Regions from separate parts of the Homo sapiens genome. Here region 1 is linked to region 2. The links come from fine-mapping of genetic effects on gene expression. A gene starts in region 2. The other region holds a variant in brackets. All regions are shown on one strand. Distances are from middle to middle. Region 1 overlaps IL12RB2 (interleukin 12 receptor subunit beta 2). Region 2 holds the start of IL12RB2 (interleukin 12 receptor subunit beta 2).

Region 1 (8,000 bases), 22 kb after region 2:
ATTTATTGGCAACATTCCTTTATTCTACTTCCAGCAAGAGCCTCCAGTGGTTTTGTGTTGTTGTTGTTTTTTTCTTTCTTTTTTGAGGCAAAGTCTCACTCTGTCACCCAGGCTGGAGTGCACTGGCACAATCTCAGCTCGTCGCAACCTCTACCTTTTGAGTTCAAGTGATTCTCACGCCTCAGCCTCCTCAGTAGCTGGAATTACAGCATGTGCCACCATACCCAGCTAATTTTTGTATTTTAAGTAAAGAAGAGGTTTCACCATGTTGGCCAAGCTAGTCTCAAACTCCTAACTTCAAGTGATCTGCCCACCTCAGCCTCCCAAATTGTTGGGATTACAGGCGTGAGCCACCGCATCCAGCGAAAAGAGACTTTTTTAAAGGAAAAGTTTATTATTCTATTAAAACTATATGAGCTAGATATCATTATACCCATTTTATAGATTCAACTGAAGCTCTGACTTGTCCAAGGTCACACAGTGGGCATTCCTGTGCCTATGTCTATGGTGGATGCTAAGGACAAAAAAGATATTTATTTAATCAATAACAGATTTTTTCAGTGTAGACAATAGCTAGGACTTCTGTAGTATACTCATTTTATCTAACCTAAAGGAAATATGTATCTACACGTGGGTCTGGGTATTAGGGTAAAATGGGATGACTGAATAGCTGAGTATTTCTCTTACCTCCATTTTGTCCAAAAAATTCCTAGTTTGGGTCCTTTCACCATAAAATAGCTTTATTTAAAAATACACACCTTACAATAGAAGGGACCATGCTTGCTTTGTACATCTTTGTATTTCCACATCTAGCACTGTGCTTGGCTCGTGGGAGGTACTCAATGCCTATGTACACAAAAGAATTAATTTATAAATGTCCATAAAGTGCTCCAAGAGACAATGCAGAAATTAGATTTAGATGGTATAGCCCGGGAGGACATGACTGAGGCAACTGGGTGTAAGTGTCTTGACAGCAAATATCAGGTGAAGAAAGCAAATAAGTCTCTCATTTTTAAAGGTTTCTAATATTTGAATGGGCATCACTCTAAAAGAAATTAATTTATTATTACCAGGGGTAATGGAGCTAGCACTGGATGTTCACCTGTCAGGGAAAATGGTAGAATATGGAGTAAAAGGCTTGGACTTGAGTTACAGCTGAGCTGGAGCCTTGAATCTGCCACTTCATAATTTTATGATCTTGGGCCAGATATTTCACCTCTCTCAGTTTCCTCTCTGAAAAAAAATATAATAATAGTATCTACCTCATGGGGTGCTACGCTGTCTAATTCAGAAAAACTGCACATAGCACTGGGCTAGGCATATAGTATTTGATCCATATTCACTACTATTATTACTGTTTCTAGGAGAAATTTACACCTTAATGGCAAACTGGGACTTGAATGGAATCTAAAATAGCTTCTAGTTTACCTGGGTTTACGGCATGTGGGGGACGTATTGTCATGTTGATGGCAGATAATAACAATTCGGTTGAAATATCACCTGTGTGATATATAAGGTTTTGTCTTTTCTTTTTAAAGTTGCTCCAGAACAGCCTCAAAATTTATCCTGCATACAGAAGGGAGAACAGGGGACTGTGGCCTGCACCTGGGAAAGAGGACGAGACACCCACTTATACACTGAGTATACTCTACAGTGAGTGAGAGGCTGTATTTTTGCAGCTGTTTTGTAGATCTTCTCTTAAATGACATTTAGAAATATCTGTTTTCTTTATTTATTTTTATTTTATTTTATTTATTTATTTATTTATTTATTTATTTATTTTGAGACGGAATCTCACTCTGTCACCAGGCTAGAGTGCAGTGGCGCAATCTCGGCTCACTGCAACCTCTGCTTCCTGGGTTCAAGTGATTCTCCTGCCTCAGCCTCCTGAGTGGCTGGGATTACAGGCACCCACCACCACGCCCAGCTAATTTTTGTATTTTTAGCAGAGACGGGGTTTCACCATGTTGGCCAGGATGGTCTCGATCTCTTGACCTCGTGATCCACCCGCCTCAGCCTCCCAAAGTGCTGGGATTACAGGTGTGAGCCACGGTGCCCGGCCTATCTGTTTTATTTTTACCAGAAAGGAGAAGCAATAGATACTTCTAGACAATTAGATACTTTTTAAAGAGTTTCTATGTTTATAGTTAAAACTGGTTCATTCATCTACAGTATGAGAGACCGAATGTCTTGGGTCTGAGTTCTAACTCAGAGTTCTCTTCAGTGCATCCAAGATCCAAGTTATAGCTGTTCTTTCCCACTCTAGTAGGGTTAAACTGGCTGCATAAGATCGCTTCTCTTTTCTGCAGCTGTAGGCTCTTGGGGTCATGATACATAAATAAACTCTTCCTTGTGGTAGTTTCCCATTCGCTTGGATAAGTTTCTTTTTAAAGCACCATTGGCTGACCTAAGAGTCCATGAGAAGAGAGAGTCTGGGAGATTCTGTTCCTTGAAGTAGATTTCATGATCCCATTAAAGATCCAGCTGATTTGTGCTATTCCTGAGTGAGGAGGAGATGGAGGAAAGGAGGGGTTCTGTAGTACATTTACTTTTTCTAACCTAAAGGAAACATCTATTGACACGCGGGTCTCAGTATTAGGGTAAAATAGCCCAGGATTCTACTCTGGCCACTGCTGTACTAGGAACTGACAATTCTGTGCCACAGATGTCAAGGTGGCCACAGTGCTTAGGATAATGTTTGGAACTGCCCTGGGGAGCCAAGATGACAAGCAGGGTTTGGGGAATTTCAGCAGCGTAGGCTTGGTTACCTATCTACATGAATGTGGAAGAACATCTCAGTTCTACCAAAAAAGGGAGTTGGGTGAAGTATAGTCTTACATGACCATATAGTACAAATATTCCCGGGGTGTATCCCCTAGTCATAAGATTGACCTTTAAAAATTGTCTAGAATTCTAAATATTTAAACATTTTGTTCTTTTCTACTGTAAGTAGAAAGTAGCACATAAAACATGTTGCTACACGTGGTTGTGTTTTGTTTACAGGCTAAGTGGACCAAAAAATTTAACCTGGCAGAAGCAATGTAAAGACATTTATTGTGACTATTTGGACTTTGGAATCAACCTCACCCCTGAATCACCTGAATCCAATTTCACAGCCAAGGTTACTGCTGTCAATAGTCTTGGAAGCTCCTCTTCACTTCCATCCACATTCACATTCTTGGACATAGGTACATTTTATTTCACTGTTTCATTGGTACTTTATAATTATTTTTAAAATCACTCAAATCTTTTTTATATGGTTGTTTCAAGAAAGACAGAGATTGATGGAAATTGGCCAACAGGCATAAGCAAAAGATAGAAGTTACTTTGATGCAAGTAAAAGGGTGCATTATTCTGAGCTATCTAAAGATGGCTATACAAAGTGGGATGTTCAACATTATTCTCTCTATTGAAGAAATTAGCCCCTGGATTCAAATCCCATGAAAGAACCAGCTACTAATGATACCACCTGACTGAGGAGAGGGTCCTGTGAGGTCATTCAAGATGCTCAGTGCAAGCCCTTCTTGGAGGAGGTGTCCTTTCGCCCCCATGGCTACTCCCATTGTTGTGAGATAGGCTACATGTGGGCCTGCTAGGCTAGAGCAGCGAGGTACAAACTATAAATAAAATTTCTCAAGTCACAGATGCATCTTGCTCTGAGAATACTCACCTCCATCCCTGGAGTGAGCCAGTACATTTCTGAGCAAATGTAATCGGTCCAGTTGAATCAGAGGCCAATCTCAAGCATTCCAAGTTCTGACCATCCAGGCAGAACTGGGCTGCCTGAAGTTCCAACCTCACACTATGTGCTTCTCGCCTCTCTTTCCATGGCACTTCTCTGCATACATATTGCTAACGATGAGTCTGATCATTGGCATTTACTATACACTTTTCCACCATATTTCTTCTCAGGCTTCCTCCCATTTCTTTCATAGACCGTTCATCTCTAGGCTACCTTCTCGCCCCCTTGTTCTTTTCCTCTGTCCCTTTGCTATGAATTTTCCTACGAACATTTCTTCTCCTCCTGAGGCAGTCATC[A/C]CTAGCCGTCTCTGGCTTCTCAGTCATTGGAACTCTTGGGTTTGGCACATTGGTTTTTGAAAAACCACTGGACTAAGTGTAGTTGAAACTTACCACTAATGTTGGTAGTAGTTATTTGGTGAAAATGAGATTTGATTAAGGGGGATTATTTTAAAGATTCAGAAGTGAATCCAGCTTTTAAAAAAGTTCTTTCTTAAAGCCTGGAACTTTTCTCTTGTATATTTTACCAAATTTGATGGTTGTGCATCTCAGAACTGAGTTTTGTCAAACTCTTTATAGCTCATGCCAGTACATAAGACAATTGCTGATCACAGATCCTGAACCACACTTTTTTGTTTGTCCTGGTTACTAGTGAGGCCTCTTCCTCCGTGGGACATTAGAATCAAATTTCAAAAGGCTTCTGTGAGCAGATGTACCCTTTATTGGAGAGATGAGGGACTGGTACTGCTTAATCGACTCAGATATCGGCCCAGTAACAGCAGGCTCTGGAATATGGTAATTATCTTTAGAGTGAAGGAAAAAACACTGAAGCATTCTTAATATTGCTGCGCAGACCTCTGTCTTTTCATACAGCAAAAAATAGAGTTTAAGAATATTTATCCCAAAAGTACACACGAGAGAATTATCAGAAAGTCATGTATGCCTCTGTTGATTAAGAAATATCTTGAATTTTGATCTCTGATTCTGAAATTTTTAAAGCTTTTGTAAACCAATATTAATTTTCTATAGTTTATTTCTAACAGAGGATTCATTTCTCCTTATTATTTACCCTGTCCTGTTATTATTTTTTAGCATTTAAAAAAGATATTGAAAAGAGAAATATTAAGAAATGTCCACAGAGAGTTATATAGAATTTAATATTCCAAAGAAAAGGTCTACAATTTAATATAATATTAGGCATTGCATGTTTTAAAATAAAAGGTATAGGATTATGATTCTTTCCGGGATTGTTGTAAAATTCAATGGCTTATAATAACAAAGGATCAGTCCCACAGATAGCTGATATTCAAGAGAGTATAACTAATTAAAGGGTTTTTTTAAAAAAAAAAAAAGCCAGTGCTATGTTTGTGTTAAAACATTCATCACATCCTAATTGTAATCAAATAAAAAATAATCTCTAGTGTAGAAACTTTGTAGTTTTCAATCTTATTTTTCAGCTGGTTTCAGGATTCCCCTCGAGAACCTACATAGATGGGTTCTTAGTACCCAGAGATTTTGTTTTATTTTTAATGAGATGCTATCATTTCAGATTAATATCATATCTATTCGGTAAGACAGTCACTGATATTTCTTCTCATTTAATGGTAGGTCTGAAAAACAAATAAGATCAAATAGCCTGGGTTTTTTTTTTTTCATTTTATGTTAAAATTCCTTAAATTAGCAATCTAGTATTAATAGGCACTTTAAAAAAATGTCTGTTTCAAGGTTAATGTTACAAAGGCCAAAGGAAGACATGATTTGCTGGATCTGAAACCATTTACAGAATATGAATTTCAGATTTCCTCTAAGCTACATCTTTATAAGGGAAGTTGGAGTGATTGGAGTGAATCATTGAGAGCACAAACACCAGAAGAAGGTATATGTCCAAAATATACATACCTATCGGGGAGCAATAAAGGGGAGAGAGGGGGGAAGATGTAATGATTTCCTTGGAATAGAATCTTTAAACTACTGGTGCTGAATCAAAAAGCATGACTGCATTAGTTAACAAGTTAATTTTTATATTAACTTAAGTGCTGAAACTGTTCAAGGAAATATGTTTGTGTTGCAAGGAAATTTTTAACATTGGGTAAGTTCTACTCCTGTTTGCTATCAGTCATGTTGGTTATAATGCTTGGTTATAACTTATCTCTCTTACTATCTCAGTAACTTATTTCACAGAGCTATAACCAGTAATTAATCTCATTTCTTGTTAAAGCTTCATATGTTTTATATTTTTGATTCTATGAAAAGTAATGTGGCTCAATAAGCCATATGGAAAGCTTGAAAGAAAGTAGGCTCTGGAGACACATATTTCAAAATAAAATTTAGCATCCAGCAATCCTCTCTTGTCCAAATATTATAACACTGTACTTCAAGCCTTTGATATTTACTGCACAAATGAGAACCACCTGGCCACCCATAACTATGAAAAGGATATCAAATGTGTTTTTCAGTCTGATGAATTTTTCTTTTTTAGTAATTATTGGGAAGGGAATGTTATTGAAGTATAAGAAAATATTTTATTGAAGCAAAAATGCCTATGTAAACTTTATGCCAATATTAAATCTTTGGAGACACAAGAAATAGCCATCTGAATATTAGTTTTTAAAAGCACTCATTTAGGCCGGCATGGTCGCTCAGGCCTGTAATCCCAGCACATTGGGAGGCTGAGGTGGGCAGATCACGAGGTCAGGAGTTCGAGACCAGCCTGGCCAGCATGGTGAAATCCCATCTCTACCAAAAAGACAAGAAATTAGCCAAGCATCGTGGTGCGTGCCTGTAATCCCAGCCATTCGGGAGGCTAAGGCAGGAGAATCACTTGAACCCAGGAGGCAAAGGTTGCAATGAGCCAAGATTGTGCCACTGCAATCCAGCCTGGGCAACAGATCGAGACTGCATCTCATAAATAAATAAATAAATAAATAAATGCACTCATTTAGTGATATAGTAGAGAGTCTTTCATAATTTATATAAATTTGACTCAGAGAAAAACTTTTTGGCATATAATCCATTGTTCATTATCTGGAGCTTTTGTAACATTAACGTGCAAAATCTAAATTCTTATTTGTGAAATTTATGGATATGTGTGCATGTAAACTAGCCTCATAATTAAGTTGCATTTATTTTCTGTGAGCTACTAATGGCTTTTGATAACTGATGATCCTTAGCAATCATACATCAATGACATTCAAGGAACGGAAGGGCCTTTAGCAGAATATAATACCTAATATATGATTCATAGAATAATCTTATATTCTTCCTTACTTCTTGTATTAATTGCATTTTTTTTTTTTTTTGAGACAGAGTCTTGCTCTGTCACCCAGGCTGGAGTGCAGTGGCACAATCTCAGCTCAGTGCAACCTCTGCCTCCTGTGTTCCAGTGATTCTCCTGCCTCAGCCTCCCAAGTAGCAGGGATTACATGCATGCGCCACCATGCCCGGCTAATTTTTGTTATTTTCAGTAGAGACAGGTTTCACCATGTTGGCCAGGCTGGTCTCGAACTCTTGACCTCAGGTGATCCACCTGCCTCGGCCTCCCAAAGTGCTGGGATTACAGAATATATTTTAAAAATTGTCTAAAAGTGAATTTATCCAACAAATGATAATTTATTACCACTCATTTTATAATAAAATCTCTTAATGTTGAACCACTTGCCCTCTGGTTGTTACTTTTATAATCCAGAGCTTACTCATAATATCGTTTTATTATATATAGTCAAAGTAATTTTTTTAAAGACTATCTCATGAATTAGATTTTGTTTATATATGTGGTACAGATAAAACTTCTGAAAATGGGCTATATTTTATATCCAAGTTCAAGGTAGTAAGTAGTCTGAAAAATATTTAAGTTATATCACATTAAGCTAAACTATAAACTAGGGAAACTCTGGGCTTGTGAATTCTTGTCATTCTTACTCACATATGATAATGACCTAGTTAGAGATGTGTGAAAAGGTTTTTCTTTTCTTTTTTAAAAAGTGTTTGTCTTTTGAATTAAAATTCCTTCAAGGCAGCACAGTAACTTTCTTATTTCCTATAAAATAAACCACCATCATAACAATGAGTATAGCAACTCATTATGGTTATGAACTCATGGATGATTATGAATTGAACCTAGGAAGCTGGCTTATTCAGTCACTGAAGGTATTCATAAAGAGAGAAACCCATACTCTGAGATACACCACCTTTACCAAGCTCTGTTGGCTTCCTTTCTGTCTCTGAATCTCCCTTTTCTATGTTTGATTTTTCTGTGGGTTGTT
Region 2 (16,988 bases):
AGAATTGCTTGAACCCGGGAGGTGAAGGTTGCAGTGAGCCAAGATAGCGCCATTGCACTCCAGCCTGGGCAACAAGAGGGAAATTCCATCTCAAATAAGGAAAGAAAATTCATTGTAGTGATGGTTGCACAACTGTGAAACTATTGCAAAAATGGTCTCGGTATAGTTTTAATGTGTATTTCTATTATTAATAGTGAAGTTGAACATCTTTTCATATATTTATTAGCCTTTCAGGTTTCTCCGCCTATGAATTGTCTATTTTTATCAATTACTTATTTCCTATTCATTTTCTTTTCTTTATCAATGTACAGGAGTTCTTTGTGCATTTTAGCTTCACTGAGATGCTTTACAGATTGGCAAAAATTAGAAAGTTCATGTGGCAGGCAGAAAAAAAATGACCTCCCAAAGAGATCTACATCCTAATCCCCAGAGTCTGTGAATATGTTAGGTTACATGACAAAAGAGAATTAAGGCTGCAGATGGGATTAAGGTTGTTAGTGAGTTGACTTCAAGATTGAGAGGTTATTCAGGTGAGCCCAATGTAGTCACAAGCATTCTTGTACTATGGAAGAAGGAGTGAGAAGAAAGAGTGTTAGAGTAATAGGAGGTGAGAAGGATTTGACTGGCTATTGCTGTGTTTGCAAATGGAAGGAAGCCATCATAAGCCAGAGTGCCAGTAGCTGTAGCAGCTAGGAAAGGCAAGAAAAAGAATTCTCTCCTAGAGGCACCAGAAGAGAATGCAGCCCTGCCAACACGTTGGTTTTTAGCTCAACCATACCCATTTCAAACTTCAGACCTTCAGAACTGTAAAAGTTTGTATTGTTGTAAGCCAGTAAGTTTTTTTGTTTTTTTGTTTGTTTGTTTGTTTTGAGATGGAGTCTCGCTCTGTCACCCAGGCTAGAGTGCAGTGGCGCGATCTTGGCTCACTGCAAGCTCCGCCTCCTGGGTTCACACCATTCTCCTGCCTCAGCCTCCCAAGTAGCTGGGACTACAGGTGCCCACCACCACGCCCAGCTAATTTTTTGTATTTTTAGTAGAGACGGGGTTTCACCATGTTAGCCAGGATGGCCTCGATCTCCTGACCTCGTGATCCGCCCACCTCGGCCTCCCAAAGTGCTGGAATTACAGGCGTGAGCCGCTGCACCCGGCCATAAGCCAGTAAGTTTGTAGTAATTTGTTGCAAAGCAACAGGAAACAAATAAAGTTGGATAAGACAAAATTCTGGAAAGGATGTGGGCAAACATATTTTTATGTGGTACTCATATGAATGCCAACTGGCACAGCCAATTTTGGAGAGCAATGTGGTAGTACTTAGTACAATTGAGTGGGTGCATCTCTTATGACCCAGCACTTCTGTTTCTGGATACACACCTCATAGAAACACCCAGATATGCACACAAGGGACATACATTAGGATGTTCTTTTATCAAGGTATTATTTGTGGTAGCAAGGAATTGGAGGCAACCTAGAAGCCCATCAATATGAGCATGGCCATGTAAATGTGGCTTATGCTGGTGATGGAATGCTATGCAGCAGGCTGAAAGAATGAAGCTACTTGTAGCAACATGGATTGACTATAAAAACATAATGTTGATGGAGAAAAAACTTAAAAGCAGTATTAAATCTATAACATACTACCATTTATTTAAAATTTTAAAGCATATAGCAATGTATTTTATCACAGATCCATATGTATGTAAATAAACACAAGGGATGTGAATTGGGAAGATATTTATAAATAAGAGTGTCAATGGAGTAGAAAGAAGAATAGCATTGAGATGAATGATAAATGAAGGGAAAAGAAAATAAGATAAAACAAAAAATTAAAAGGGGATGTGGATTTAAAAAGACAATTGCGTACTGTGAACTCCGTATACTGACAATTTTACTCAACCCAATTCTGTACATCTAGGGCAGGGCGCGGCAACTTTTCTTTAAAGGGCCAGATAACAAATATCTTAGGCTTTGCAGGTCATGCAACATTCACAATCTCAAGGGTTCAGTAGAAAAAAGCTACTAGATGGGCAAAGAAGCACAAATAATAAGACTCATAACTAGGAGAAAAGTCAGCAATAGAAACAGACCCAGAAACAACAGAGATAACAGAAATAGCAGACAAGGATTTTACAACTATTATAAAAATCTCAAGGATTTAAAGAGAAAAACTAATAATAAGAGAAACTGAAACTATAAAAAATAAATGGAATTTCCAGAGCTGAAAAATACTTTAATATCTTACTTATGTAAAAAACTAATTGGATGGATTTCACAGATTTGACACTGCAGAAGAAAAAGCAATGAACTTGGAGATATAGCAATCAGCAAACTGAAGCAGAGAAAAAAAGGACTGAAAAAAAAGTGAATAGAGCCTCAGTGACCTGTAGCACAGTATCAAACACACCAAAATTGTGTAATTAGAATCTAGCGATGGTAGGCAGAAGAAACAACTGAAGAAATAAATCTGAAAAGTTTTCCAAATTTGGCAAAAACTACAAAACCACAGATCCAAGAAGCTCAATAAATACTAAGCAGAATAAACACAAAGGAAACCACACCAAGGCACATCATAATATAATAGTTGAAAGTCCATTATAAGGAGATCTGAAAGGCATTAAGAGAAAAAAAATTACAGGAATGCAAGATTAGACTTAACACTGACTTCTCAACAGAAACGATGCAAGCCAGAAAACTATGAAATAATATGTTTAATATGCTGGGAGGAGGAGAAGTAAACCTAGAATTTTACATACAGTAAAAAAAATTCTTCAAAAATGAAGGCAAAATAAAACAATTTTTAAGAACACAAAAGCTAAGAAAGTTTGTCAAGAGCAGACCTGTCCTATAGGAAATATTAAAATAAGTTCTTTAGGCTGAAGGGAAATGATACCGGCTGGAAACTTTGATCTATACAAAGGAATAAATAGCACTTGCAATTGTAAATATATGAGGAAATATAGAAAATTTTGGGTTTTATATTTTTTAATTTTTTAAAAGATAACTAAGTAAAGCAAAAATAGTAATAATGTATCATGGGGCTTAAAACATAAATGAAAGTAAAATGTACAATCAAATAGTACAAAAGATATAAGGATAGAAGCATACTGTTGTAAAGTTTTTGTATTATACATAAACTGGCCTACTATTTGAAGGTAGACTGTGATAGATGAATAATAATACATATTTTTAAACTATCAGACATATGAGAAGATGTTTGCAGTCAAAGATACACAGTGTAAGGCAATGAAATATCATTTTTTACATGTTAGATTGATAGATTGATAATTACAGAAGATTTATAGCATTCACTATTAGTGATAATGTGGCATGCTAGTGGAAGTATGAATTACTATAATTTGGATAGTAATGTGGCATAATCCATTAAAGAGAAAAAGCTCATATCCTTTGATTCAACAAGCTACATGTGAGATTATGTTACCCACAAATAAAAGCACCATATATTTGTACAAGTATATGTGTAAGAATATTTTTATTTTGGTGAATATGCTGCATTTTGGGGGAGACAAGGGGGCAGGTGGGAATTAGAAACCTGAAGACCTGTAAATAAGAGAATGGTTGACTAAATCTTAGTACATGCATGGTATGGAATACTTGTAGCTATTGAAAAAAAAAATGAGGCCAGGCACGGTGGCTCATGCCTGTAATCCCAGCACTTTTGGGAGGCCGAGGCTCTACTAAAAATACAAAATACAAAAATTAGCAGGGTGTGGTGGCACATGCCTGTAGTCCCAGCTACTTGAGAGCTGAGGCAGGAGAATCATTTGAACCCAGGAGGCGGAGGCTGCAGTGAGCTGAGATCGTGCCACTGCACTCCAGCCTGGGCAACAGAGTGAGACTCTGTCTAAAAAAAAAAAAAAAAAAAAAAAAAGAGAGAGAGGAAAAAAGAAAAAAAATGAGAGCGCTACTACGTGCATTATGGAATGAAGTTTGTGTCATGTGGTAAAAGGAAAACGAAAGATAGATGGATGGACAGATAGGGAAATAGAATAGCTCAATTTGTTTAAACCTAGAATATATTTTCTGTATGGCTTAAATATAAAAGAAAAACCTAAAACGCTTTTATACGTCTATAAAGGCATGAAGAAAAATGTGGAAAGATTCTCGTAAAACTATTATTTGGGAAGGAGAGACTGGAGGGGAAAGGAAATATTATTAACATTTGATACTACTCTGCAGTGTTTGATTTGTAGAAAAGGATACTTAATTGAGATTCTTCCTGCCTCTTTAGCAGAGGTCCTACAGGCCAAAATAAAAAAACTAATGCATTCACCACTGAAGACAGTGGTACTTTGGACCAGTGACTTCTGGTGTGTCACATGCTTCTCTGTTTCCTAAGCTGAGCATTCATTGTCCCTGTTCCACCATTTTATATCCTTGGAGCGGGGCAGGGCGAGGTGGGAGGTGCAGGTAACCTGGGTTTTTTACTTGTTTGTTTATAGGCTGTGGACCCAGAGGAGGCATATCTCACTAGGTAGCCACCACTGCTCATTTTTCAGAGAGCTTGGATCTCAGCTGGATGCCATGACTGGACAGGACTTTGGGTTGTCTCATTTGGGAAATCAGAGTATTTTCTATGTATGAGAAGCATGGAAAAAAAGGACATTTGAAGCCAGAAGAGTGGAATGTAGAAAAGAATCTTAATGATTATACATCCACATTTCAGAGTACTTCTCATAGGGCTTCTGTTGATGTACTCTACAACAAACCAAAAACAAACAAACAACAACGACAACAAAAATGAGGAACATATGTGTGGTTTTATGTGGGAATGTTTGTGAGAAATTTGCCTTTTATGCAAATCACTCTCCTTTTTATAAGAACTTGCCAAAGTTTTGCACCACCAAAAGTTCTGGCTCTGATGATCAGGTAACCAGCCATGACATGATGGAATCTGTGAATCCTGTAACATATGTTTAGATTTAGCTGCTAAGAATAGCAGAGCCAGTTTGTGAATAAAGTTTATGTTGTGTAGGACCCTGCAGCTATCACAGCTTTAAATTTACCTCATGTCTCACTTTACTCTTTAACCTTTATGTTCATTTAACAAGGCATCCAGCAATCTAAAGACCTCTCAAAAACGCACTGCTGCTCTCCAAGACATGGCAATTTCCATGTGGTTTGTTCATCTTTTTTTTTTTTTTTTTTGGACAGAGTCTTGCTCTGTTGCCCAGGCTGGAGTGCAATGGTGCCATCTTGGCTCACTGCAACCTCTGACTCCCGGGTTCAAGCCATTCTCCTGCCTCAGCCTCCTGAGTAGCTGGGATTACAGGTGAGTGCCACCATGCCTGGCTAAGTTTTGTATGTTCAACAGAGATGGGATTTCTCCATTTTGGCCAGGCTGGTCTTGAACTCCTGACCTCAGGTGATCCACCTGCTTCAGCCTCCCAAAATGCTGAGATTATATGTATGAGCCACTGAGCCTGGCCAGTTTGTTCCTCTATAAACAATGTTTGTGCTTGTTAAATGTCAGTTGTGGAGAAGGTATAAGTCTACATTTTAAGAATTATGGAGATTATTCATAATCTGAGAATCTGGTATTGCACTATTTTAATTTTATATAAACTTTTTCAATACATAACACTACAAATATATTCAGGAGTTATGTTGCTGTCCTATAAGTTTAATACTTTGGAGAGATGAGTAAAACTAACAAAGTAATAACTTTTAGAAATGAAACTTTTACAAAATGAAGCAGTTAAGGTTGAACAGTTAATCTTAGATTCTGAGTTTTCTCATTATAAGTAAAAGTTTAAAATGATGTTAAAACCGTCTTACCAAGTTTAACGAGTGCCAGCATTCATTTGATGCCCTAAATGACTATGTTAGCAACCACCTCCTAGTATTTATCCTGACAAGTGACACTTTAGGAAAAGCACATCTCAGTTATTCATAGAATAGTGTGATTACGTATTTTCAGGGTGTTTGGTATCAGCAATGAACCAAATTAGACATTTAAAGTAATGGAACTATACCAGAAATGGAAACTGAACTAGTATTTCCTAGAAAAGACTTTGTCACTGTCACTGTGGTTATCCACTTAATTGAGCTTTTGATTTACAAGTACATTCATTTACCTAACAGCTACACAGAAGACCATATCATACCCATAGACTTAAAAATGATTACATTAACAATCACAGTTGACATTTTGGGTTGTATATTAGGCTCTTGCTTCATCAGGCATCGTCTACCATCTAGGGTTTATTCTTTAGAAAGCACAGAAGCAAGTTTGTCTTTGTTGTTATTTTTGTTTTCATTGTTATTTTTGTTTTTGTTTTTTTCTCTAACTAGACAGGCAACCACTGACAAAAGCCATGCCTGTATTAGTGAAACTCCCAGATATTAATAGGAGGAGAAGGCAGAAAAAAGAAGTGGGGAAATAGAAAGGCCTCTACAGATGGTGATTTCATACAGAAAGGTTACCGACTTGCTAAGAAAAATTATATTTAATTTTCCAACTAATTTTTAACTGTCGAAAAGTGTGAAGATTGAACAACACCTACAATCCCGTTGAACTGGCCAAAAAGAATGGGATCTCTCCAGAACAAGTCAGTTCAACTCAGTAAATACTTATTGACTACCTGCCCTGTACCACTCAGTGTGCCAGATGCTGAAGATGAGGGATCCTTGCGTGCATAGAGTTTATAATCCAGGGAGCATGCAGGATAAGAGAACCACTGTTATCAATGGCAATCAGTGCAAGTCTTCACTTGATAATGTAAGTCTAAGTTAAACAATATACTGATGGACCTAGAGCATGATAATTTCTCAAATAATACTTATGTAAGAGTTGTCATCTTCTGACTTTTTTTTTCTTGCATCTAGGGAAAAGAAGAGAATAAAGAAGATTATCATTGCTACCTGCATCTTACTGTATTCTCATAATTTGTTGTGCTTGCTTAACAACCAGATTCAAGTTCTTTCCTCAACAGCTCTCATCTGTTCCCTCAAAGAATATGCCTTAGATGCATTTGAGACACCATTTTGTGTCTGACTTCTGCAATTTTGTAAGATGCTGCCATTAGAAGTTAATAGAGCAGTGGTCTTTCAACATTTTAGATGGTATACTCCTTCAGAAAAAAAAAAAAAGCATTTTTGAGAAACATCCCCAACATATGTTTGGTTGTTTTTTTATTTCCTTGAAAAACATATGTATGCCGGGCGCGGTGGCTCACGCCTGTAATCCCAGCACTTTGGGAGGCTGAGGTGGGCAGATCACGAGGTCAGGAGTTTGAGACCAGCCTGGCCAATATGGTGAAACCCCATCTCTACTATAAATACAAAAATTAGCCGGGCATGGTGGCGCGTGCCTGTAGTCCCAGCTACTCAGGAGGCTGAGGCAGGAGAATCACTTGAACCCGGGAGGTGGAGGTTGCAGTGAGCTGAAATTGTGCCACTGTACTCTAGCCGGGGCAACAGAGTGAGACGCTGTTTCAAAAAAAAAAAAACAGAAAAACATATGTATATTTATATGTGTGTATATACACACACACACATATGCACACACAAATATATAAATTAAATTTTTAAATGAGATAGAGTAAAATGCATTTTTGAAATTATTGATTTATTAACAAAACTAAAAGCCTTCCTTCTCACTAAAAAGTGTTGAAAAATCCATGAATTATGCAAGATTGTTATAACATTTGGCTATCATAATCTTATTCTTGATATCAATCAGTTTTTAAAGTAATGAGAAGCTGCTGCATTTTTATATTTTTTAACAAATGGATTTAAAATCCACTGAACTGCTCAATTAAAAGATTGAAACAAAATAGCAAATTGTTTCCGAGTTTTTAAAAGCATTTTCTGTGATGACAATCATAAAATCTTCAGTAAGAAAAACACACAATAATGGGAACACTTCGAAATATTTGTTTTCAAATCGTCTCTTCATAACAACGTATCACTTGGTGTGAAAATTACCTTGAAGAAACAACAAATAAACCTCTGGGGTTTTTTGTTCTTCAAAAAGATCTATTAGATAACATGTACTGAGAGCCATATATCAATACAGAAAAGATCAGCAAATTTAGGATATTTGGGGTTTTTTTGTAAAAATAAAGAAAATAACTCACTTTAAGACAACTTTTAAAATCTTTGTTACAAATGATTTCTACAATTATGTATCATCTCATTACAAAGTAATATTAAGATTCTAGATTCTACGATTTAAAAGATTTTAGTAAAATTATTCATGTAGATAAATTACTAAAGCATGTAAACTACAGTATGTCACAATCCCATAAAGACAATCTACTGTACATTGTTGATTCCAAGATGTACATTTTTCATATTTAACATCTCAAACATTGAGAGCGGTTTTAAGGTAATGCCCAGAAGCGTGGTATGCAGTTGTCCACTTCTGCGGGCTCAGCAAACCTGTACTGGGCTCAGTGGACTAGAAGAAAACTCCAGAGACAACGGGGTGGGGGAGGGGGGGGGACTTAAAAAAAAATTCGATAGATAATATACATATGTTTAAAATCTAAATTTTATTTAGAGATATCTAAATAAAATCTCTAAACTAAATAAAATTTTAGTTTAAAAGATTCTAAATGTTGAGAAAGCATTGTTATTGTTTACCTGGCAGTTCTTTTTATTTCTTACTAGCGCATAAATAATGGTATATCTTATAATTAAGGAAGTCTTAGATTTAAAGAAATCTAAGCTGACGGGTGCAGAGGCTCAGGCCTGTATTCCCTGCACTTTGGGAAGCCAAGGCGGGAGGATTGCTTGAGGCCAGAAGTTTGAGACCAGCCTGGGTAACAGAGTGAGAGTCTGTCTTTACAGGTTTAAATACAGTTTTTTTCTAAGTAATATTGTCATAAATATTATGTCATGAATATTATGCAGAGCTGCCGACCCCTCTGTACTCTGGGCAGTTTTCCCTCTTGCCTGAGAACACCACTTATAACACGGGACCTATACGGGAGTGGTGACACGCCATCTGTTCAAGTTTAACTTTTTTCTCATTTTTTAGACAGCAAATACAAATGGAAGTTCCAGTATGTTCTGCCCGCACTCCAGTGGGCGGTCTTGTGCACAGCCCACTTGGGAGGCCTCGGCGCTCAGGTGTGGTAAGAGCTGGGCGGTGCAGAGCACAGAGAAAGGACATCTGCGAGGAAAGTTCCCTGATGGCTGTCAACAAAGTGCCACGTCTCTATGGCTGTGAACGCTGAGCACACGATTTTATCGCGCCTATCATATCTTGGTGCATAAACGCACCTCACCTCGGTCAACCCTTGCTCCGTCTTATGAGACAGGCTTTATTATCCGCATTTTATATGAGGGGAAACTGACGGTGGAGAGAGAATTATCTTGCTCAAGGCGACACAGCAGAGCCCACAGGTGGCAGAATCCCACCCGAGCCCGCTTCGACCCGCGGGGTGGAAACCACGGGCGCCCGCCCGGCTGCGCTTCCAGAGCTGAACTGAGAAGCGAGTCCTCTCCGCCCTGCGGCCACCGCCCAGCCCCGACCCCCGCCCCGGCCCGATCCTCACTCGCCGCCAGCTCCCCGCGCCCACCCCGGAGTTGGTGGCGCAGAGGCGGGAGGCGGAGGCGGGAGGGCGGGCGCTGGCACCGGGAACGCCCGAGCGCCGGCAGAGAGCGCGGAGAGCGCGACACGTGCGGCCCAGAGCACCGGGGCCACCCGGTCCCCGCAGGCCCGGGACCGCGCCCGCTGGCAGGCGACACGTGGTGAGTGACCAGTGACTCGGGGTCGGGGACAGAGAGAGCCCCAGGATCCCGGACCAGCGGGGTGTCTGCGTGCCCGGGATTCCGTGTCTCGCGTCTCCCGAGGGGGCTTCGGCGACGGCTTCTCTCTTTATATATATATATGTATATATATATTTTTAAAGTCTTCCAATACGATCCGAAATGGCTTCTCTTCATCACAGTCCTAACGCCCTGGGCACAGATGTTCACTTGGAGGTACTGGGTGGTGGTTTGGCTGGATGGAGGGGAGGGAGCGCGCGGACTGAGCCTCCAAGGTACTCTCTGGGCCGGGGCACAGAGTGGTGGGCTCAAACGGAAGGGAGGGGACGGCGACTGGAAAAGGGCAGAGGGCACCCCTGAGGGTCCAGCCTTGGTTCAGGCCCACAGACGTGGCTCCCGTTGCTTGAAAATGTATCAAATGTGAGTAAGATATTGGGGGGGGCCTTCCGTAGTCCCGGATGAGGGTGAACTAACCTTGTCTCAGCAGTCTTTCCTGTGGCCTCTGGACTGACCCCGAGTCCCTGCCTGGCCAGTTACTAGCAAGATGCTCTGGTGCAAGCAAATTGGCCAGCCTCAGTTTTCTCTTCTGTGAAATGCCCCTTCCTTTGTGAACTATGAGGCCCTCCTCATCTCCCTAGGACACACTAAATATCAGTGTCAGCATTGTACGGGATTATGTATCTGTACCATTAGATCCAGGTCTTACAAATAGTAACCTAAAAGCATACAAATAGACCTTGTCTAAGAACAGGGTCCCGGCACGGTGGCTCACGCCTGTAATCCCAGCATTTTGGGAGGCCAAGGTGGGCAGATCACTTGAGGTCAGGAGTTCAAGACCAGCCTGGCCAACATGGTGAAACCCTGTCTCTATTAAAAATACGAAAATTAGCTGGGCATGATGACGCACACCTGTAATCCCAGCTACTCGGGAGACTGAGGCAGGAGAATTGCTTGAACCCGGGAGACAGAGGTTACAGTGAGCCAAGATGGGGCCACTGCACTCCAACCTGGGCAACAGAGCGAGACTCTGTCTTAAAAATAAATACATACATACATATACATATATATATATATACACACACACACATACACATATATATATAAAGAATAAAGCTAAATTAGTCCTTTTTTCCCCATTTTTAAAACTCTAGATAATTGTTATAATCTGCTATGTGTGTGCTCTGTGTAGATGAACATCTTTGTTGAGCACCTACTATGTATTTGGTTTTTGGATATATATTATCTAATTCCTTAAAAACATGGTGAAATTGTTATTAGTATTCCCATTTTACAGATGTGGAAACTTACATGTTTCACACAGTTAGAGAGTTACAGGTTTCTGGCTCAAAACTGTGTTCCTTCTGTTTCCACCTCTCTGGCTCAGAACCTTATAACCACCTCCACTTGAACAAACAAACGTTGGATTCTCATTTTCCATTAATAGGAATGGTACAGTGCCCTATTTCTCTGTCCAACACATAACTAAAAGGACCTTAGTGGCTAAGAGCTAACACTTTCCTTCCCTATTTTAATGTGAAATCCTCAATACATTACACTATCTGTTAGGCACAACAGCCTCCAGAAAAGTTTGCAATATGCTCTTTTCCATATGTCATGCCTCTTGAATGTCATGTTCATTACATAGGCTGATAAATTCCCAAACTTTGACAAACGGAATCTTTTCTGTATTAGAATGAGTTTTAGTGTGAAAAAAAATTCGAAAGCACACATGTAATTTTTAAGGTAGAAGAATCCGCCAAGTACAGTAGGTATTGGGCATCATTTCTCAGTTGTGGACTTATTTTTGTATTGCTGCACCTGCTTTGTTCTCTACCAAATTATTTGTCATCTTTGTAATTACGCTCACAGCACTGCTGTCAACTCCTACAAATAAATTTGTGCAGAATGGCGGGACACGGTGTCTCATACCTGTAATCCCAGCACTTTGGGAGGCCGAGGTGGGGGGATCACCTGAGGTCAGGAGTTTGAGACTAGCCTGACCAACATGGCGAAACCCTGTCTCTACTGAAAACACAAAAATTAGCGGGGCATGGTGGCACACACCATGTGGCATGGTAATCCCAGCTACTCGGGAGGTTGAGACAGGAGAATCGATTGAACCCGGGAGGCAGAGGTTGCAGTGAGCAGAGATCACGCCACTGCACTCCAGCCTGGGCGACAAGAATGAAACTTCATCTCAAAAAAAAAAAAAAAAAAAAAAAAAGCCAAATCCCAAAGGAAGTCTTATACAATTTCCTTTGCCCTTGGAAGTTTCTAGTGTTCTTCGCTAGTGTAACAGTGGTTTGTTTTTGTTTTTGTTTTCCAAATAAGTATTGAACATGTACATTATGGTCAGTGCATTTGCTGGACTTAGACTTAGTGAATATAAAGAAATGTAAGGCCCAGTTCATGACCTACGAAGTCAAAATTGTTTGGGAAAATTTTGAGAATACTTAATATGTCTTAAATGATAGGTGGCATGAAGTTAGGAGGTATGGAATCTAGTTTTAATCAAATCAGTCTTTCAGTGTTAAATCAGATGAATGGGCAAAGAGAGGAGTCAAAAGCAAGGCCATCTAACTTAATTCTCGTAGTGTCACTGAAAAGAAGTAATACTGCCTTTTTTCTTATAATAATAGCAGGTAACATTGATTGAGCTCTTGCTATATACCAGGTACTCTGCTAACAGCTTGTCATTTAACCCTCCCAACAATCCTGTGAGATAGGTGCTGGTTTTTTGTTTGTTTGTTTTTTGTTTTTGAGACGGAGTCTTGCTGTCGCCAGGCTGGAGTGCAGTGGTGCGATCTTGGCTCACTGCAACCTCTGCCTCCCGGGTTCAGGTGATTCTCCTGCCTCAGCCTCCCAAATAGCTGGGATTACAGGCGCACACCAGTATGCCCAGCTAATTTTTGTATTTTTAGTACAGACGGAGTTTCACCATGTTGGTTAGGATGGTCTCGATCTCTTGACCTCGTGATCTGCCCGCCTCAGCCTCCCAAAGTGCTAGGATTACAGGTGTGAGTCACCACGTCCGTCCAGTAGGTGCTGTTTGTATTCCCTTTTTACAGATGAAGGAACTTAGGCTGAGTGGTCAAGTGATTTGTCACAGGCCATATAGCTGGAATTATCCGAGCCAAGACTTAGGTGTCCTGGGCGGATCCACTGCTCTTTTCATTACTACTACAGTTGCTCAGGAGGCTCTTCTGGGAGCTTGGACTGAGGTGATGAGCGTAAACATGGTTCAATGCCTCTTGGAGGTAGTAGCTTTGTGGGTTTAACATGGGAGCCCTGAGGCATGCTGAGAATAAATGAGAGGGGTAAGCCTGTTCCTGCAGAATTTAAACCGATAGAAGAGGGAAAGCAGTTAGACTAACAGAGCATCAAGCTTGGATTTTTATTTCTCAGGTGCTCATGGAGAAGGGAAGCATAGAATGTAATTCGAATCCAATTCTGGATTTATGTGTGGTTTTTCTGGGTTATCTTGGTCAACTTACAGATTTTTCTATCTGTAGAATAGGATACTAATCATTACTTTATGTATTTGACCAAATATTAACAACTAAATTATATGCTTTGCACAGTGATAAACTACTAAGTAAATGCCTACAAAAGATTGTTAAAATTAGAATCTTAATTAACCTCTATTTTGCAATGATATGCAGGAAAAGCAACACATTAAGTAAAATATCAGGAGATACTGAGATGGAGGGTTGTTAGTGTAGAGACTTCAGCTGAATTCTTAATTTATATGAGAAACCTGGGGAAACATTGTGGCATGGTGATCACTACCCTTAGTTTTTTAATTCCCCTCCCAAGTGTGCCTCCAATTATCTTAAGATAATTGTGAAATTCTTAGAAAATTCTCAAAACAATGCAATTATCTTAATATGTTAATGCCTTGTAGTACTTTATGAAAATACTCAGTGGTTGCTTACAAGGTGAAGCAAAACTTGGCCAGGACTTTGCAATACCCAAGATCCAAAGATAAACCTCCTGCCATTGTCCACAAACAGAGACTTCCAGATTGAGGATGTCAAAGAAAAAACCTTTCCAATACACTAAGGAAGAAAAGTTAGTGAAAGAGGTTTAGTTTTCTCAATAAAGGTCAATTGCTATTTTTAAAATAAGGAAAGGAGGCTTTGAAGTATGAAGTTACCTGCCATGGTGACAGAGGCAGAAATGGAGGAACCAAGGATGGTGCCCGGGGCCTCTTTCCAGCACATCATCCTTCCCAATAGAAGACAGCTTATTTTATCGATAGGCCTAGCAGGATACAGAGAGTGAATCAGAGAAGGCTGGAGTTTCCGAAGCTTTATTGAACACTTGCCATGAAAGTTTTAGGCTTATGGGAGCTATTCAAAGAAAGAAAAGAGGTCATGTAGTTTATTTGAAAGTGTCTTGTTTCTCCAAGACTCCATTCGTATCTTGTTTCTTTCTTTCTTTTTACTGTTATATTGGAGAAATGCTTGTTCAATCTATAGGATAAAATAGTTCTCAGTACAGATGATTGAGGGGTTGGGGTGGGATAAATTCATTTCAACTCTGATTTGTTTACGCACAACATTTCAGGAGTCTATTATGTCAAATGGGATGTATCTAAAATGGAAATAAAGACAAACAGAATTGACAGAAACAACATTCCAGAAAAAATAGGAAAAGAAGAGAGAAAAGAATAAAGGAAGTTAAGAAAAAAAAAAAGCCATAAAGAGGGAAAGGAGAAAACACATTGAATTTAAAAAAAAAAAAAAAGGAACAAAAATTCGGAAGTCTCCTGAATTTGAGCAAGAAAAGAAAGTTCCTGTACTTGGGTGAAATTAAAGAGGAACCATAGGACAGCAAATGCTTACCAATGAAATTAGAGAAAATTCCAGGCAGCCTCGTCAGCTGCACAAAAAGGAAAACAAGTGTGTGTGTTAAATTTGGCTCATGTAAACAGTGCTTGGACTATTGAATAGAAAGAAGAAAAAGTAGAAAAGGTTATGCATTTTACTTTCCTTCCCCTTCAAGCCATTTACCATGACATTATGAATGGGGCCGGTTTGATGATGGGGCCTGATAGACGGGCTTTTGCCCATGTAATGGCTTGTTACATTCTTTCACCAAATGGTAGACTTGGAATGAAAAACAGTTCATTTTCATGACCATAACTCAGGAAATTTCATGAAGAAGAGAAGGTTAGCTAATTGGTAACTTGATTTGATTATCCTTTTCCATCACCATAGTGGAATAGCATCAGATACGGTTACATATTGTATGTGCGCTGAGTTTTGTTGTTTCATCCTCTTTTGAGGGAGGTGGGCCTCAGAAGTAATGAGTCAACCTTCTGAAGAGTAAAGCATTAGGCATTATAAATGCTTTACTAGATAGATATCATAAAGATTGTATGTAAGGTGCCTAGCATCGTGCCTGAAACATAGTAAGAGATCAAAAAATTGCAGCATTAGTATTAGTATAGTGTTAAGATTAGCATTATTTTTAGTATTATGCTGCTACTGTTGCTATTGATTACAAGCAGCCTCACATCTAGAAGTGATGTTGGATTAGAAATCAGGAGACTGGCCGGGCACGGTGGCTCATGCCTGTAATCTCAGCACTGTGGGAGGCCGAGGCAGGCAGATCACCTGAGGTCAGTTCAAGACCAGCCTGGCCAACATGGTAAAACCCCATCTCTACTAAAAATACAAAAATTAGCTAGCCAGGTGTGGTGGCGCATGCTTATAGTCCCAGCTGCTCAGGAGGTTGAGGCAAGAGAATCGCTTGAACCCAGGAGGTGGAGGTTGCAGTGATCCAAGATGGTGCCATTGCACTCCAGCCTGGGTGACAGAACGAGACTGCATCAGAGAGAAAGAGAGAGAGAGAGAGACTGAGGTTCTGATCTGGATTTTGCTATTAATGTGAACTTGAGCAAGTCCCCTCTTTTTTTCTAGGTCACGGTGATCCATTTGTAAAGTCGGGAATAAATGACCTCTGAAGTGTTGTCTGTATATTGATCTGCTACCAGTAAAACATATCTCTGTAAGTAGCTTTGCAGGCAGAAGGGAAGAATTTTGTTCTTTGCCTCATTTAGTCACCTGATCATTAACGACATTCATTTATATGACAACCAGCCTTGAGGCACACTTGAAACAATCATTTGGTTGTCTGTGGTAGCCCAGACTGAAATGTCAGCTGTTGGAGGGGAAGGGAGCAGCAGGGCACAGTAGTTACTAGTAACTCGTGTAGCTCCTTCCTCCCCTGACTTTTTAAGTTCTTTGATGGTCTTAGGAATTAAGATTTTTTTTACCTGGCCTAACAAAACATACAACTCTAGTACACTGAAAATCATATGTGATTTAGCAAAGAAATACAAACGAGGGAATCAGCAGGGGAAATAGGAACCAGCCTCAGTGGGGTTCTTACTTTGTGCTAAGTATTCTCATGAATCCATGACACCATGGACTGTTCACAATAACTTTGCCTTAATCGTCACCGTAACTTTGTCGAGCTAGGTATTACTATACCTACTGTAAGGCATGAGGAAATGGTGCTCTCACAGTCAATAGCATATAGCAGAACTGAGATTCATTCACCTTTTTCTTTTCCTTAATACCACTATTTCCCTTGACCTTAATACAGTGCTACAGAAGAAAAATAATTTGGAAGTAGAAAGTTTTTCTGCCAACATGAGATTATCACCTGCGAAAGGAAACTTAAGAGTTTCTTTTTTCCTAGCCTAGCACAATACAATTTTGAAGTAGCTTCATGCTTTGTGCTTCTCTCTAGAGCAATGGGGAAAGAGGCTGGTCAGGGAGTAATTGTTGTCTCTGTCTTCCTACCGGTCGGTGTATTTCTGGCTTGTTCCCGCCCACCCCACCCCCATCCCCGATCTGAGACGTTGTTTTCACCATCTGGAAACTGTCACAACTTGAGTGATGAGTCAATGACATAGCACACTCTTTGATTTTCTGATTCAAGACAGAGTTGTTGTTTTAATATTTACCCTCTAGGCAGGGTATGTGAAGGATGTTTACAGTTACAGTAGGTTTCATTTTATTGGAAGATACCTCATTTACTTGAAGGTCTTTGGGGATTCTGAACTTCTCATAAAAGGAGAAGCTATTTTTACCTGGTAGTCAGAGAAAATGAGCAAGTTTGTGTTTGGATCAATGTACCATTATATAAACTCAAATTTATCTTCCATTTTACCTATTTCATATAAATATGTATGTTTATATAATATACACATATATTTTAACCTATTTAATAATAGGACA

The links. PIP is the estimated chance that this variant, and not a neighbour inherited with it, causes the effect.
Region 1: its variant is fine-mapped to the expression of IL12RB2 in blood mononuclear cells (TOPMed, PIP above 0.99).

The regions. Positions count from the first base shown.
Region 1 is chr1:67,325,197-67,333,196 of GRCh38, forward strand. It overlaps IL12RB2 (interleukin 12 receptor subunit beta 2), which reads left to right. Exons shown (of 17, transcript NM_001374259.2): 5 at 1,539-1,653; 6 at 3,004-3,188; 7 at 4,391-4,533; 8 at 5,464-5,614. Among named protein-coding and RNA genes, the nearest start is that of IL12RB2, 21 kb to the left of the region's middle. The variant A/C (reference allele first, on the strand shown) is at 4,039.
Region 2 is chr1:67,298,251-67,315,238 of GRCh38, forward strand. IL12RB2 (interleukin 12 receptor subunit beta 2) reads left to right here and starts at 9,623. Exons shown (of 17, transcript NM_001374259.2): 1 at 9,623-9,717; 2 at 15,663-15,750. RefSeq lists enhancers at 8,846-8,945, 8,976-9,025 and a silencer at 9,486-9,675.